Linked DNA regions of Homo sapiens: region 2 is linked to region 1. Evidence: fine-mapped expression QTL. Tissue or cell type: blood mononuclear cells. Region 1 holds a variant in brackets; the other region holds the start of a gene. All regions are shown on one strand. Distances are between the middles of the regions.

The links. PIP is the estimated chance that this variant, and not a neighbour inherited with it, causes the effect.
Region 2: it holds the start of UBXN6, and the variant in region 1 is fine-mapped to the expression of UBXN6 in blood mononuclear cells (TOPMed, PIP above 0.99). The same link has a PIP of 0.9 or more in lung.

What each region holds. Positions count from the first base shown.
Region 1 is chr19:4,383,786-4,391,878 of GRCh38, forward strand. The region is part of intron 1 of SH3GL1 (SH3 domain containing GRB2 like 1, endophilin A2); the gene reads right to left. Among named protein-coding and RNA genes, the nearest start is that of SH3GL1, 13 kb to the right of the region's middle. RefSeq lists enhancers at 2,700-3,200, 5,619-6,226, 6,227-6,833, 6,834-7,442. The variant G/A (reference allele first, on the strand shown) is at 4,862.
Region 2 is chr19:4,453,595-4,461,669 of GRCh38, forward strand. It overlaps UBXN6 (UBX domain protein 6), which reads right to left and starts at 4,200. Exons shown (of 11, transcript NM_025241.3): 1 at 4,021-4,200; 2 at 336-499. The coding sequence starts at 4,103. RefSeq lists enhancers at 1-435, 4,262-4,461 and silencers at 4,002-4,071, 4,102-4,151.

The DNA.
Region 1 (8,093 bases):
GGAACACAGCGTGAGAGCCGGGAAAAGGCAGCGTGATCCACGCCGGAACACAATGCGAGAGCCGGGAGAAGGCAGAGTGATCCACGCCAGAACACAGCGTTGAGAGCTAGGAGAAGGCAGTGTGGCTTTGTTTGACCTCGGCTAGGAACATATGCGATGGGTGACAGATTTTTTGCTGCTCTGCACTTGTCTGCAAAAGACTGCAAAAGGAATGATTTGGGGCTACAAATCAATCTTATCAAGTAGGTGAATTTGCACAGGGAGCACGTGAGTCCTGGCCCAAGCTGCCCTCTGCGACAAGGCTGGGTGCTAGGTGCTTTCTGTGAGCGCGGCCTCACTGTACACAACAAAACTGAAAACGCAGGCTCCAGAGGAATTTACAGGCTGGAGGGGATGTTACATCCGTGAGGAGGATGCCCAGCAGAAGCAGAGTCCTCAGAGCTGATGGCGCAGGAGCCCCCCAGTTCATCCCGCTCCGGACCACACAGAGCTAACCCTGAGCTGGGAGCCTCCTCCCCGCCCACTTGGCTTCCTGGCCAAGGCCCCCAGGCACATACAGCACGGTGGAGGAGGGTTGAAATAACACACTTTACGAGTGCGCAACACACGATATTGCTAGCCACCGGTCCAGGACTTTCGGTCATGCAAATTGAACAGGTTGTTTTTTTCCAGGCTAGGACTGCTGAAAACCTATGTGGCTATTTTTCTTTTTTTGAAGGCAGGGTCTCGCTATATTGCCTAGGCTGGAGTGCAGTGGCTATTCATGGGCATAGTCATCAAGCACTACAGCAGATGATCATATTAAGCAAGGTACCGCACTGGAGAAGCTCTCAGATACATGCCACAGGGGACCGCTCACTGCCAGGCTGTGTGAAAATGCAGAAACTTGGAGACTCTAAATGTCCACTGGCTGGAGAACGGATAGACACACTGTGGAATAACCACGAGGGAAAGCCACGCAGCTGCGGATGCGAGTGGAGCCTCGTGTGTCAGTGTGAACGGTACTCACAAGCAGTGCTCAGCCTAAAAGTAGGGTGAGCAGGTGCGGTGGCTTACGCCTGTAATCCCAGCACTCTGGGAGGCCAAAGCAGGCAGATTGCTGGAGCTCAGGAGTTCGAGACTAGCCTGGCCAACATGGTGAAACCTTGTCCCTACTAAAAATATGAAAATTATCCGGGTGTGGTGGTTGGTGTCTGTAATCCCAGCTACTCGGGAGGCTGAGGCAGGAGAATTGCTTGAGCCTGGGAGCGGGAGGTTGCAGTGAGCTGAGATTGCGCCATTGCACTCCAGCCTGGGTGACGAGAGACTCCATCTCAAAAAAAAAAAAAAAAACTAGGGTACGAGAAACCAAGCAAGAAAGCACGTGATCCTGTTGACAGGCAGTGTGGACCGCCACACAACCCTGCGTGTTTTGGCGCAGTGAACGTGCGCAGTGAAGGCACGCCGGCCCTGCTCTGGCTTCCTTGGGATGGGGTGGGGGCACCTGCTCATCTGCTGGTCATTCTTAGCTGCCTTTCTGGATCTGAAACCCTTTATGATACAACCTTCATGAGGTGCCTGAACAAGGGAGGTGCCCTGTGCCACATACTGGTGCCGACCAGCGTGTGGCCCAGGGAATGTGTTCTGAATGCAGTAAGAGGCAACCTCTCCTGGAAGGAGGGCGACCCCCTACCGGCTCCTCTGACAGCCGAGTGGACTCCTGGGCTCCAGAAACGTGATTGCAGCAGGCAGACCAAAGGTCTTTCTCCTGCCCTCCCTCCCAGCAGCACTCTTTCCTTCCGGGCCCCAAAGACCCTCCCTGGCTGTGCAGCTGCCCACTATGGAACCCTCAGCCAGTCTAGAGGTGGCACAGGGACCCCACTCAACAGAGGGGCCCACTGGTGCCTTCTTCTGACAGGCACAGAGTGCTCTGGGGCTAGCCGGGGAGGCTGCTGTGGGAAGGCTGGGAGTGGGAGAACACTGGAAAAATACACAGGATTCTGCAAGTATGAAATAAAAATGTAAAAGCTAGGGCACAGCGCAGCATTCCAGCGGCCTCCGAGCCAGCCTCTGCAGTGGGCAGCACATACCTCCCAGACACCCACACTACGCTCAGCCAGGGGTCCGACAGCTCCAAGGCTCCTCGTGGGTGGAACGCTGACTTGACCAGAGTCAGCAAGAAGCAAGATACTCTGCAGTTCTGGGGGTTGTCCTTCCTTCCTAAAATAATAGCAGGGATTCTCAACCTTAGAGAAAACCATCAGAGGCCTCAGGAGAGGATGAAGATGATCTTATGCCAGGGTGGGTGAAGGTTGGGAGATGGGGAAATTCCAACCAGGTCCCTGGGCTGCCCTCTTCTGAGCCACAAAGGCTGGCCTTGAAGGGCCAGGGCTGCCCATCTGTTTCAAACAATCGGGACTCTGATGAGTGAGGCTGTTAGGCTGATGGATGCCTGCCTGAGTCAGCTGTGGGGCCTCATCCCACAGAGGCGGGTGGCAAGGGATTGCGGCGAGGGCGGGCAGAAAGTTCCCAGAGCTTCCTTCCGCAGGGGGCTTCCTGAGAATAAGGGTCTCTGCTTAGTGCTGGGGCAAAGTCCCGAAATGACAGCAGAAAAATAATCAGTCAGCAGTTCTGCTTCCAGCACGCAGGGCTGGATGGGGGTGTCCTGGAGGAAGATATTTGCATTACTGCTTGGGTGATGTTTGGGAACTCTTTTTTTTTTTTATTTCTTTTTCACTTTTTTTTTTTTTTTTTTGGAGAACAGGGTCTTGCTATACTGCCCAGGCAGATCTCAAACTCCCGGGCTCAAGCGCTCCTCCTGCCTCTGCCTCCCTCAGAGCTGGGATTACAGGCACGAGCCACCGTGCCCAACAATGTTTGGGAACTCCTTAAGAATGCTGACTGCTGGGTCTCCAGCTTCCATGCCTTTCCCCAGGCACTCAGGACCTGGCTGTTACCAACCCATCAGCCCTCTTTCCTGAGCCCAAATCCCAGTGTGCAGGATCCCCCGATCCTAAGAGGCGAGACTGCAGAGGGCATGGCGGTGGGCCCCAAGGGAAAAGGCAACGTGCCTTCCGTGAGGCATTTCCCACAGCGTGGCAGCTAACACAAGCATAAGGCACGTGAATCACGTGGTCAGAACACAACTCCGCTGCAATTCCCCTTCTGTATTTCTTTTTCTTTTTCTTTTGAGATGGAGTCTTGCTCTGTCGCCCAGGCTGGAGTGCAGTGGTGCAATCTTGGCTCACTGCAAGCTCTGCCTCCCGGGTTCACGCCATACTCCTGGCTCAGCCTCCCGAGTAGCTGGGACTACAGGTGCCCGCCACCACATCCAGTTAATTCTTTGTATTTTTAGCAGAGACACGGTTTCACCGTGTTAGCCAGGATGGTCTCGATCTCCTGACCTCGTGATCTGCCCGCCTCGCCCTCCCAAAGTGCTGGGATTACAGGCATGAGCCACCGCGCCTGGCCCCTCTTCTGTATTTCTTATTCTGGCAAGAAGGAACTTCCAGGTGGGCACTACTATAGTACAGGCTTTGTTTTTGTTTTTTTTAGGCAGGGTCTTGCTCTGTTGCCCAGGCTGGAGGGCAGCGGCATGATGATAGCTCACCGCAGCCTCAAACTCCTGGACTTAAGTGATCCTCCCACCTCAGCCTACCAAGTAGCTGGGCTACAGGTGTGCACCGCTATGACTGGCTAATTTAATTTTTTGTACAGACGGGGTTTCATTGTGTTGCCCAAATGGGCTTGAACAACTGGGCTAAAGCAATCCTGCCTCAGCCTCCCTAAGTGCTGGGATTACAGGCAAGAATCACCACGTCCAGCCCGAACAGCTCTTTCACAAGAGAGCACACCTCAGGCTCAGGGGTGGGGTATCCAGCAAAATTTCACTCTATTGTTTTGCTGCTGTTGTATTTGTTATTCCACTTACTGTGCGGGGTTTTTTGTGTTGTTTTGTTTTTGAGGCAGAGTGCAGTGGTGCTATCTTGGCTCAAGGCAACCTTCACCTCGCAGGTTCCAGCGATTCGCCTGCCTCAGCCTCCCGAGTAGCGGGGATTACAGATATGCATTACTACGCCCGACGAATTTTGTTTGTTTTTGTTTTTGTTTTTTTGAGACAGAGTCTCGCTCTGTCGCCAGGCTGGAGTGCACTGGCGCGATCTCAGCTCACTGCAACCTCTGCCTCCTGAGTTCAAGCGATTCTCCCGCCTCAGCCTCCTGAGTAGCTGGGATTACAGCCATGCGCCACCCACGCCCAGCTAATTTTTGTATTTTTAGTAGAGATGGGGTTTCACCATGTTGGCCAGTCTAGTCTCAAACTCCTGACCTTGTGATCCACCTGCCTCGGCCTCCCAAAGTGCTGGGATTACAGGTGTGAGCCATCGTGTCCGGCCTATTCCAGTTACTGTTATTGAGCAAGGAAAAATACCACGATCCCCTTTAAAATACATTTTAAAAGTGATAAAATAAAAGTAATTTAAGAGGAAAGAGGCCGAATCAGCTAATGGGTTCAAGCTGAAGGACAGGCGATGAACCCTGGCTGTCATTTCAGGGCATCACCGCTGGCCAGCTGCCTGCTGTGGTCTGCGAGTCGTGGGAGTGTCACATTTGAACGCTGGGACAGGGGACGCAGGCTTAGAAGACAGGTACAGAGAGGGGCAGCGGAAGCACAGGAGACAGCAGGCTCAGAGACAGAAGGGGCCATCCACAGGGAGAAGTGGGAGGAGCCGCAGGGCCTATTGTGGCAATCAGAGAGAAGTCACTGCAGCAACTGGGCACAGAGGCCAGGGAGAGAGCTGCAGGATGGGTGGCCAGGCCCAGCCATGGCAAAAGTCCTAAGAATCTTGGCAAACAGGGCTGGGGAGCCAGTTTCTGGAGGCTG[G/A]GAGTGGTTTAGTTTGGGGAAGCATTCAAGCCAGGGAACCACCAACTCTGAGCAGACCGGCCCAGCCGGGCAGCAGCAGGTGCATTTCAGCCTGGCCTCGATCAAGGGGGGAAGCAGGCGTCTGGGCTTGGCTTCTTAGGGACCCTGCTCAGGCAGGCTCTGGGTCAGAGACTGCCTGTGACACAGTCAGGCCCTCGGACCTGGCCAAGTTCAGGTGACTGTCAGCTGCAGCCCTGGAGCTGGACACACACCCTAAACCACAGGAGACACTCTCTGAGCTGTTGATTTTTTCAGAGCAGTCGGACCTGTTCCCAACCGAGTTCTCCGAGGCCTTGTCAGCCACCTGCCTCCCTGGTGCTGTGACACGGCCTGGTCAGATGCCTGGCCAGCGGACCAGGGGCTGCTGTTGAGCCACCACCAGGGACACCACAGGGGCCCTGTGGAGGACAGCCCCTCACTCTGAGAAGGAGCCCTCTAGCTCAGCCTCTGTAGGGGGCGTCTCTGGCAACCTCATCAGCAGGCCAGTGCCCAGCAGAACATGGCCCATCACACATGCCCGAGCACAGCCCAGCCTCAGGAGCTGCCGTCCGATGGGAGGAGAGCACCTCACACGAACACCAGCGTGTGGCATCTGGGTGGGGGACCCCGAGGCCAGAAGCTCCAAGGGCTGAGAACTCAGTTCCCACATGCATCCCCGGAAGATGCCAAGGATAAGGGGAGATAGAAACGCGTTCGTTATAGGGCAGACAGGAAGTGGAGAGAAAATGAGGTTGGGAGGTAGGAGAGGCCGGTGACATGGACAGGAGGCAGGAGAGTACAGGGCCCCACACAGGGTGGGCGGGAGGGACTGACTGTGTGAGTTCCCATGCAGGGGAAGAGTAGCATTTAAACCTGGGACCAAGGCAGGGGCTCCAGAAGCTCCCGAAATTCGGCTGAGAGCTTGAACTGTACCCTGGGCCAGGTGGAGACCTGCTTCTCTTCCTCTAGGGCGTGCTCACACAAACTCGACACGAGGCCATCCGCTGTAGGGTGGGGGCCACGGTGGCCCATCCGTCCTTCCATGTGATATTTACCGGCTCCCTGGGGCAGGCCAGCCAGTAAACCAAACACTGGGGATGCAGCAATGAGCACAAATGCCTGGCTCCGGCGGCAATGGGCTCATATTCCAGTGGCAACGGCAATGGAATAATCACTCCCATTGGCATGAAACCATGTGGGGAGCTGTCCACTTGGGGGCCAGGGCAGAGGAGACGCATGTTCCCGGCCCAGGGAGGGGAGTGGGCCCACTCACCCCATGCCCTCGCAGGCCTGATGCCATCTGGATTCTGAGTATCTGCCATGACCACCGCCCCTACAGACTGTGTCACACGCGGCATGACCCCTGCTGGGTGCTTCGTCCCCTTACCCAGGTGTGGAACTGCGGCCCGCTAGGCGGGAGCCCCCTCCCAGGCGGTCAGTGGGCCGCTGCTGAGTCAGGTCCAATGGAGGAAACTGTCCGTCTATCTTCCTGCTGTGGTGAGGAGGTCTCCCCGTGACCCTGCTCTCAGGGCCTGGTCAGCAGGTTTTTCTAGGAGTGGAGAGGAAAAGGAAGACAGGGCCGTCCTCCCAGAGCCTGAGTTCAGGGAGCCCTGGGTACTGCTTAACAGGAAATGAGCAGAAACGCACCAAGCTGCAGTGCTCAGGAAAAGTGCTTGCCAAATCCAGCCCTGCAAAAGGCGAGAGATAGAGAAAGAGAGAGACAGGCAGGCAGACAGACAGGAAGAAGGTGTGGAGAGGACAGACAGAGAGAGAGGAAGAAGAGGTGAGAGGGCAAAAGAAGGGAGAGACAGAGAGAAAGACAAGGGAAGAGTGAGAACAGAAAGAGAGGAAGAAGAGGGGGGAGAGATAGGGAGAGGAGGGGAGAGAAGGGAGAGAGGGAAACCCGCTGCAGCCCTGGCCACCACATTCTTTCATCCGCTTTCCAGGGACAGCTTCGAAAAAGAACCAGAAGAGACCGCCCCCTGACACTTCAGCTCACACATTAAAAAGCCATTAGAGTTGGAGAGCTCAGGTCCTGCTGAGATGCCTCCAGAGCCTGTTGAGCTCCTGACACCTACCCCACCCCCACCCCGGGGCAATGCTTCCCCTTCCAACCCTCCCGGCACTTAAAGACCTCAGGGGCTTGGAAAAGAGAAACATGGAGGCCGCTCTGAGCTTCTCCTCTAAGCTCTGCCCCGGGCAGCGCCGAAACCTGCGGCTGCCTCCGAAATCCTACTGGGGACGTTGGCAGCATGCTCCAAATTAAACACGACGTTTCCCCAGATCAGATCAGTTGCAAAACACTGGAAACAATCACGGAGGAGGAAAAGGGCTAAGGCAGCAGTGAAGGCTTGGCTGTACCCTAGGCCCCTGGATTAAAGTCCACTGGACACAGAGACACAGGCAGGTCTGAGCGGGACGGGCCTCAACCTGCAGGTTTCTCCTTTGAGGAAAAAATGCAACAGACACACACACAGACATCTGAGGGGCCCAGCTGCCAGCTCAGACCTCAGGTGCACTGCGCACGTGACAGCGGCCACCCCTGGGTGGCCAGGGGTGGGGTGAGCAGTGTCATGTTCTCTGTGTGCTTGATAGGTCTGGGGTGTCAAAATGTGACAGCCCCCAATTTCTTCAACTGAGCGGCATAAGGTGAGACACCTCATCTCGCACTCACAGGCTGTTATTAGGGGCACCTGGAATATAATTAAGTACTGCAGAGCTGGGCTTTAACACACACCCAGATAAGCAGGGCGATCAGCACCCACGGAGCCCCAACTGGTCTTTGGTGAACACGGGATTCTGAGTCAGAGACAAACTTTTAGCCGAACTTTCAGCCCTTGACTTGTTCTGGGACCTACTGTACAGCAGTCACGGGTGGCAGAAATCGGAGTCTGATGACCCCTTGGTCCTGGTTTGTTAAGAATGGGAAAACGTAGGATGCTGCTTGGTTACAAAGTGCCCAGTGACCACCAACAGCCAACCCTGTGAAGGGGGCCAGGTGAGCCAGGTTTCACAGACAGGCCCGGGGAGCCGTGGGGTGTAAGGAGCCTCTAGCTTCCTTTGGGGAAAGGCAGTCTCAAACTTCTGTGTCTGCACAGCCCAGCTGGCACACAGTTCAGGCCTCCACACAGCTGCTGGTTCCACCCGTCTGCAAGCCAGAAACAGAGTGAGCCCTGCCTGTCCTGGGGTGGCCCAGGGTCCACGCCGCCGGCTC
Region 2 (8,075 bases), 70 kb after region 1:
CATTCCCGGGGTGGGCCTGGGGGCCACGCACACCGCCCCAGCCTGCTTCTGCTGGAGGTCAGGCTGGAGGTCCCCTGCAGGACTTGCTGTGCAGCCACCCCTCAGCCTGAGCAAGCACCCCACTGCCTGGGCAGCCCGTTTCTGCTCCAAGTCTCTGCTCCCACCCCCTCCCCAGGAAGCTGCCCTTCCCCCAGCACCTGCCCTTGATGAGCCGCTCCCAAGGGTGACCCTCACACCCCCACGGTTGCTCATGTGACTTCTGCATCCAGGGCCAGGCACCAGGGCCGAGAACCTCAAACAGCCCCAACCTGGGCCCGAGGAGGGCCATATCTCACCCTGGTTTCGGATGGTGTCCTGCGATGTGGGGCCCCAGGCCCGGGACTGCTTCTGCTCCAGCCGGGCTAGGGCGGCAGCGGCTGCCATCTGTGCCTCATTGGTGGGTCCCTGGCGGGGCGGCCTGGGGGCTGGCTGGTTGGGCTTCTCTTTGTGGGCCTTTTCCCTGGGAACAGACCGAGGGAGAGTGAGTGTATCCTCCCGAGGTGGCCGGCAAAGCTGACGTGCAGTCACACAGAGGAGCTTCTGCCCCTCCCCAGCACCATCAGCCAGACGTGTCCCTGCCTATGTGGGCCAGGACACCTGGTTCCCAGGGGCCACCTGCAGCCACCAGATGGTTCTACTGCAGGCGGAAGAGCCCCTGGAGGAAGGAGATGCTGGTTCCACTCAGCTCTGCACCATCGGGCAAGTCCTGCCCCCACTGGCCCTCAGCGTCCTCATCTGTAAAATGGGGTGACAGCACCCCTCCTGAGGTGAAGGCACCTTGACATCCTCAGTGCTTTTTTTCTTTTTGAGACAGGGTCTTGCTCTCTCACCAAGGCTGGAGTATAGTGGCACGATCATGGCTTACTGCAATCCTGAGCTCCCAGGCTCAAGGAATCCTCCCGCCTCAGCCTCCCAAGTCGCTGGGACTTAGAGGCAAGCATCATCATGCCTGGCTAATTTTTCTATCGAGACAGGGTCTCGCTATGTAGCTCAGGCTGGTCTCGAACTTTTGCCTCAAATGATCCTCCCACCGTGGCCTCCCAAACTGCTGGGATTATAGGCATGAGCCACAGCACCCAGCCCGCATCCTCAGGAATTGAGGAGACTCAAGGGGTGTCACATCCTCCCTCCCTCCCTGCCATAAGACTCTCCACCCTCAGGTCACAGCTTCGTTTGCTGAGCACCTACTGTGTGCCAGGACCCTGCTGGGAGCTGGTCGGCTCGCTTGGTTTACTCCTCCTAACAAGCTGCCAGGGAGGCCTCACCATCCCATTCCTAAACCCAAGAGGGACAGGAAGTCCGGGCGATGTGCCCCATGCCACGCCACCCTCGTGGCGGGACCCTGGGGAGAGCGGACAGCAGAACCAGCCTCGCCCTGGCCACTCCATGCCAGGCCTAGGGCTGTGCAAGTACGAAGAGCTCATGGACTCGTGGCTCCACCCTGTTGAGCCCTACACCAAGGAGAGTTCCGTAACCCACGTGGCACAGTGACCTGGCAGAGAAGCCTCGCAGAGAAGCCCTTTCTCCCAACCTGCTCGGACGCGTCTGTCTCACCCGTCTCCTCTCAGGCCCCTCCCATGAACTTACGGGCTGTGTCAATTTCTGTGCCGTAGGTCTATTAAAACCTTCTGGGAGGCCAGGCTCTCAGTTCAAGCCCTATACTCCTCTGGCTCTGCTTACATACCCGGGCAGCCCTCCCTCCTCGTCCCACCCCTGCCTATCTAGTCCTCCCACAGCTGAGCATCTTGGGTGGAAGAGGAGATGACTCATGAAGACCCACCCCGGCCTCATCCGATATCTGGGTCTTTCCAACAAAATGCCATTTCCCAGGGCACCTCACCCCAACCAGCCATGGACCCTGCCCCCCTGGGCAGCCACAGGGACCCTTCTGGAACCTCAGCCAGGGAGCGTCAGCATCACTCCACTGCACAACGCCCTCCCACTGCAAAATCCTAAAGCTTCCCTTGGCCAGAGAGCCCTTCCCAGCCTGGCCCACTGCCCTCCCGTGGCCTGTCTCCCCTGGGCTCCCCGCAGTTCTTCCCACACCCCAGCTGCTCCCCACTGCAGGCCCCTGCACTGTCTGCACCTTCTGCCCAGAATGTTCTCCGGGGGAGTGGGAGGAGGATGGGGGTCTGGAAAGGGCTAGAGCTGCCGCAGGGAGAGAAGGAGGGGCAGATTTCCCCACAGCTGAGTCTCACTGTGTCCTGGGAGAGGCCTTCCCAAACCACCTGACGGCCCCTGCTCACCCTCCTTGGAGGCCCTGGGCACTCATCCAAGCACTCATCGCCTGAGCGCTCATCCAAGGTCTGTTGGTTTATTTGTCCATCGGCTCCCTCTAGAAGGTGAGCCCTGGGACAGCAGAGGCCTTCTCCTGTCCACCACTGCAGCCTAAAACAGGACTTGGTGCCCACCCACCCCACACACCCTGGATATGCAGTCTCGCTCCACAAGGGACCTCCGCACCGCTTCCTTTCCCAACCTTCCCCTCCAACCTTCCCCTCTCCGCCCAGGCTCTGGGCTGATCCAGCCATCACCCCGATACCCTGCATCCTTCCTATCATGCCCAGTCCCAGTGGCCCCAGCACCCCCCACCCACTATTGGTTGAATCAATGAAGGGCTCCCCCGATTTGCCCCCTTCTCTCCCTGACCCCTCTCCCTCCCTCACTCAGCCTTTGCTCTCCTGCTCTCCCCCAGGAACCCTGACGTCCTCACTATGCCCCTACCTCCATCACCACCCCACTGCCCCGTGATTCCTGACCCCCACTTCCTGCCACCTCCCTGCCTCTCCCAGCCCCCACTCCCTCACAATCCCTTCCACTATTGCTTACAGACCCGTGTCCTGGCTGCCTGGCTGACTTCCTCAGTCCCTCTCCATCAGTCCCCACCACCCTCTGGCCAGCCAGCTCCCTGCAGCGGCCCCAGCTCTCCAGTTTCCCTTTTCTCAACCCAACAGCCCTCAGCCTTGCACCTTCCCTAGCTCCACTTCTTCCCCGGCCCTCCCAGCTGGCTCAGCCCTGCTCAGGCCCTTCTCTCCAAGTCCTCCCTAGACAATCCGGAAGCCTGCCCGGCATCTATCTCCTTTCCCCTCCTCTCCCACTTCCATAATCCACTTGGCACAGTGACGTGGCAGAGAAGCCTCGCAGAGAAGCTCTTTCTCCCAGCCTGCTAAGACGCGTCTGTCTCACCCGTCTTCTCCTCTCAGGCCCCTCCCGGGTAAGAGTCCATCTGTCAGAATCCCTCACCTCCACTCTCCTCACACACCTTCCTCAGCCCCTCCCTCTCAATTCGCCAGGACATCCCAGGTCACTGACGACGCTGCCCACCCCGGCCTCCCTGGCCTTCCAGACTCTTTCTAGTCTCCCATCAGCCTCCCACGTGCTCCAGATACCAAATCCAGAACCCCTCTTCCCATGGATACCTCAAAACAACTCTTCACCACCCCACCCCACAGCTGTGCGTCCTCCTCCAAGCTCAGCTCCCATCCATGGTCACCTAGATTGCCCCAAATCATCCCGGCCTCTTCGGCCAGCCGGGTCCCCAGACAGAGCTCTCCCTCACCACCCGGCTCAGGACTCATGATCCCGTTTTTCCCCAAAGGTCGTTCCACTGACCCCCAACTGCCTACAGCCCCGTCGCCCTAATCCCCCGCCACTGCATCGGACCCTCCTGCGGCCCCGCCCCCGAGACCTCCCCTCCCGCCCCGCCCCCTGCGCTAGTTCCCCTCCCCTCGCCTCCCCCGCCGCGCCCCCGGGTCATACCCGCCCCCTCCTGCCCCGCCCCCAGATCTCTCTCCCCTCCCCCTGACGCCCACCCTCGGCCCGACTTCGTCCGCCCCCGGCGCCTCTCCCCCTCCCCTGACCCTCGCGTGCCGCTCCCAGCCCCTCATCCTCTCCGATCTCCCGAGCCGCCCAAGGCCCCAGATCTCTCTCCCCGGCCGTCCCCGCCCCGCAGGGCCTCAAGCCCCTGCGTTCCTCACGCACCCCACGGACTCTTTGAGCTTCTGACCGGGTCCCGCGCTCTTGAACTTGATGTCGGCCTTGAACTCCTGAAAGAATTTCTTCATGGTGGCGGCTGGCCCGGCGGCGGGGGGCCGCGGGGGCGGGGGGGCACGGGGCCCAGTCGGGGACGGGGCCGCCGGAGACCAGCCACCGGAAGAAAATTAAAAAAAAAAAAAAAAAAAAAAAAAAAATTTACCTCGCCGCCGGAAGTCCCGCCTTCCCCTGGCCTGCCACGTGACAATCGACTAGACGTGCCTCTCTAGCGCTCGGTGCCTTGCTGGCCCAGGGCGGCCGCTCTGTACGCTGGAGCCGCGTCTCTGTGGTTCTTCCGGACTCCGTTGCCAGGGCGACGAGTGCACCTCTCGATTGGAGACAGGGCATTCCGTGGCGCTCCCCAAACGGTGACAAACGGTGATAGGACAGGGACAGGCCAACTGAACCTCGCAGAGAAAGCACTGGGCCCTATCCCTTTCGCTGCTCAACCTAAACTAGGCGCGGTGGCTCACGCCTGCAATCACAGCACTTTGGAGGCTCAAGCGGAAGGATTGCTTGATCCCAGAAGTTGGAGACCAGCCTGGCAACATGGCAAAACCTCGTCTCTATAAAAAAAAAAAAAATAAAATAAAATAAATTAGCCGAGGGTGGTGGCGCGCGCCTCTCAGCTACTTGGGAGGCAGAGGCGGGAGGATCGCTTGAACCCAAGAGGTCGAGGCTGCAGTGAGCTGTGATCAAGCCACTGCATTCCAGCCTGGGCGACAGAGAGAGACCCTGTCTCAAGCAAAACAAAAAAAATTCCAACCTTCTCTGTCTCCCCAGAGCTTACGTGATAAAATCCCAATTCAATGTTGGGTATTGGAGGCCCCCACGATCTGGCCTGTTTTGGTGCCTGAAGCACCCCCCCGCCACCATCACCACGTACCCTAGGTAGGAGCTGTTTAAGAGGATGCACCTGGGCCGGGCGCGGTGGCTCATGCCTGTAATCCCAGCACTTTGGGAGGCCGAAGCGGGCGGATCACAAGGTCAGGAGATCGAGACCATCCTGGCTAACACGGTGATACCCCGTCTCTACTAAAAATACAAAAAATTAGCCGGGCATGGTGGCAGGCGTCTGTACTCACAGCTACTCGGGAGGCTGAGGCAGGAGAATGGCGTGAACCCGCGAGGCGGAGCTTGCAGTGAGCCGAGATCTCACCACTGCACTCCAGCCTGGGCGACAGAGCGAGACTCCGTCTCAAAAAAAAAAAAAAAAAAAAAAAAAGAGGATGCACCCAATGCACCCAATTGGGACCTGGGGATTGGGGATCCACTTTGGTGGACACCAGTTAATAGTGGCGTACTTTGGTCTGTGCAATCCACAAAGAAGATACACAAAGTGACAGTTAAAACAAGCCTCAAAAAATGGGAGTTGGGGGTCAGACGTGGTGGCTCATGCCTCTAATCCCAGCACTTTGGGAGGCCGAGGCCGGCGGATCACTTGAGGTCAGGAGTTTGAGACCAGCCTGGCCAACATGGTGAAAGCCTGTCTCTATGGGCACCGGTAATCCCAGCTACTCGGGAGGCTGAGGCAGGAGAATCGCTTGAACCCGGCAGGTGGAGGTTGCAGTGAGCCGAGATCTCGCCATTGCACTTCAGCCTGGGCAACAGAGGGAGACTCTGCCTCAAAAAAGAAGGAGTTGGAATGAGATACACAGAGACTGATGGAGGAGAAGCCTCCAGGTGAGGAAACAGCCCACCCCAAGACTGAAATTGAAATATCATGGGTTGGACGGGTGGCTCAGGCCTGCAGTCCCAACATTTTGGGAGGCCAAGGTGGGAGGATTGCTTTAGCCCAGGAATTGGAGGCTGCAGTAAGCTAGGATCACGCCACTGCACTCCAGCCTGGGCAACAGAGCCAGACCCTGTCTTATTAAAAAAAGAAAAAAAGGCCAGGCACGGTGGCTCATGCCTGTAATCCCAGCCCTTTGGAAGGCCGAGGCGGGTGGATCACGAGGTCAGGAGATTGAGACCATCCCGGCTAATACGGTGAAACCCTGTCTTTACTGAAAATAATTTTTAAAAAAATTAGCCAGCCTTGGTGGCGGGCGCCTGTAGTCCCAGCTACTTGGGAGGCTGAGGCAGGAGAATGGCGTGAACCCAGGAGGCAGAGCTTACAGTGAGCCGAGATCATGCCACTGTGCTCCAGCCTGGGCAACAGAGCAAGACTCCGTTTCAAAAAAAAAAAAAAAAGGAAAAGAATTGGGCCAGGTGCGGTGGCTCACACCTGTAATCCCAGCACTTTGGGAGGTCAAGGCGGGTGGATCACTTAAGGTCAGAAGTTCAAGACCGACCTGGCCAACATAGCAAAACCCCGTCTCTATTAAAAATACAAAAATCAGCCGGGTGTGGTGGTGTGTGCCAGTAATCCCAGCTACTTGAGAAGCTGAGGCAGCAGAATCACTTGAACGCAGGAGACAGAGGTTGCAGTGAGCTGAGATTGCACCACTGCACTCCAGCCTGGGCGACAGAGCGAGACTCTGTCTCAAAAATAAATAAATAAAGTAAAAAAATAAATAAATAAAAGAAGAATACAGTGCAACCCAAACTTCAATCTTTCTGATCTCCAGTCTCCTATCTATGAAATGGGGATAAGAATAACACTCTCTATAGATTGTAGGGGTGATCATGTGATTAGAAAGTTCTCAGTATGCCGGGCACGGTGGCTCATGCCTGTAATCCCAGCTACTCAGGAGGCTAAGGCAGGAGAATCACCTGAACTTGGGAAGCAGAGGTTGCAGTGAGCCGAGACTGCGCCACTGCAATCCAGCTTGGCAACAGAGCAAGACTCCGTCTCAAAAAGAAAAGAAAAGAAAATTACAGCTCATTGTTGTGAATAAGGAATTGTATACCCTATAACTCAAATAAAGGTACAACACTGGGCCAAAGTCACACAGCTGGAAAGTGGCAGAGACCCATCCCACTTCTCCAAGAATAAAATCCTATGGGGTTCCTCAGCCTGGTCTAAGGAGATCCTAACATTAATAGGCCCTAATAAATTTCTATTTCAGGTTCTAAGTATTCTGAGGGTTTCAGAAACCCCGTTTCTTGTTATCACCCACCTTTCCACCTCTGCCTCAGTTACCTGGAAGTATTTCCAGCTCACCTCTGGGCCTTTGCCTAGGCATTCTCCTTTACCAGAAGGGACTTCTCTTCCTCTGCCTAACTCAATCCTCTTCCACCATGACGCTCTCCTGGACTATCTTCCTCATGTCGGATGAGGTTATGAGATTAAATAATTTAACATTTCTGCCAGGAGCGGTCGGTGGCTCACACCAGTAATTCCAGCACTTTGGGAGGACAACATTTATTTTTCTTTTCTTTTCTTTTCTTTTTTTTTTTTTTGAGATGGAGTCTCGCTCTGTTGCCCAGGCTGCAGTGCAGTGGCACAATCTTGGCTCACTGCAAGCTCCACCTCCCAGGTTCACACCATTCTCCTGCCTCAGCCTCCCGACTAGCTGGGACTACAGGCGCCCGCCACCACACCCGGCTAATTTTTTGTATTTTTAGTAGAGACGGGGTTTCACCGTGTTAGCCAAGATGGTCTCGATCTCCTGACCCCGTGATCCGCCCGCCTCGGCCTCCCAAAGTGCTGGGATTACAGGCATGAGCCACCATGCCCAGCTTTCTTTTTTTTTTTAGACAGGGTCTTACTCTCTTCCCCACGCTGGAGTGCAGTGGCACAATCATGGCTCACTGCAGCCTAGAACTTCTGAGCTCAAGCAGTCCTCCCCACTCAGCTTCCCAAGAAGCTGGGACTGCAGGCATGTGCCACCACACTCAGCTAATTTTTTTTTTTTTTTTTTTTTTGAGAAGGAATTTCGCTCTTGTTGCCCAGGCTGTAGTGCAATGGTGCGATCTCGGCTCACCACAACCTCCATCTCTCGGATTCTCCTGCCTCAGCCTCCCGAGTAGTTGAGATTACAGGCACCCGCCACCATGCCTGGCTACTTTTTTGTATTTTTAGTAGACACAGGGTTTCTCCATGTTGGTCAGGCTGGTCT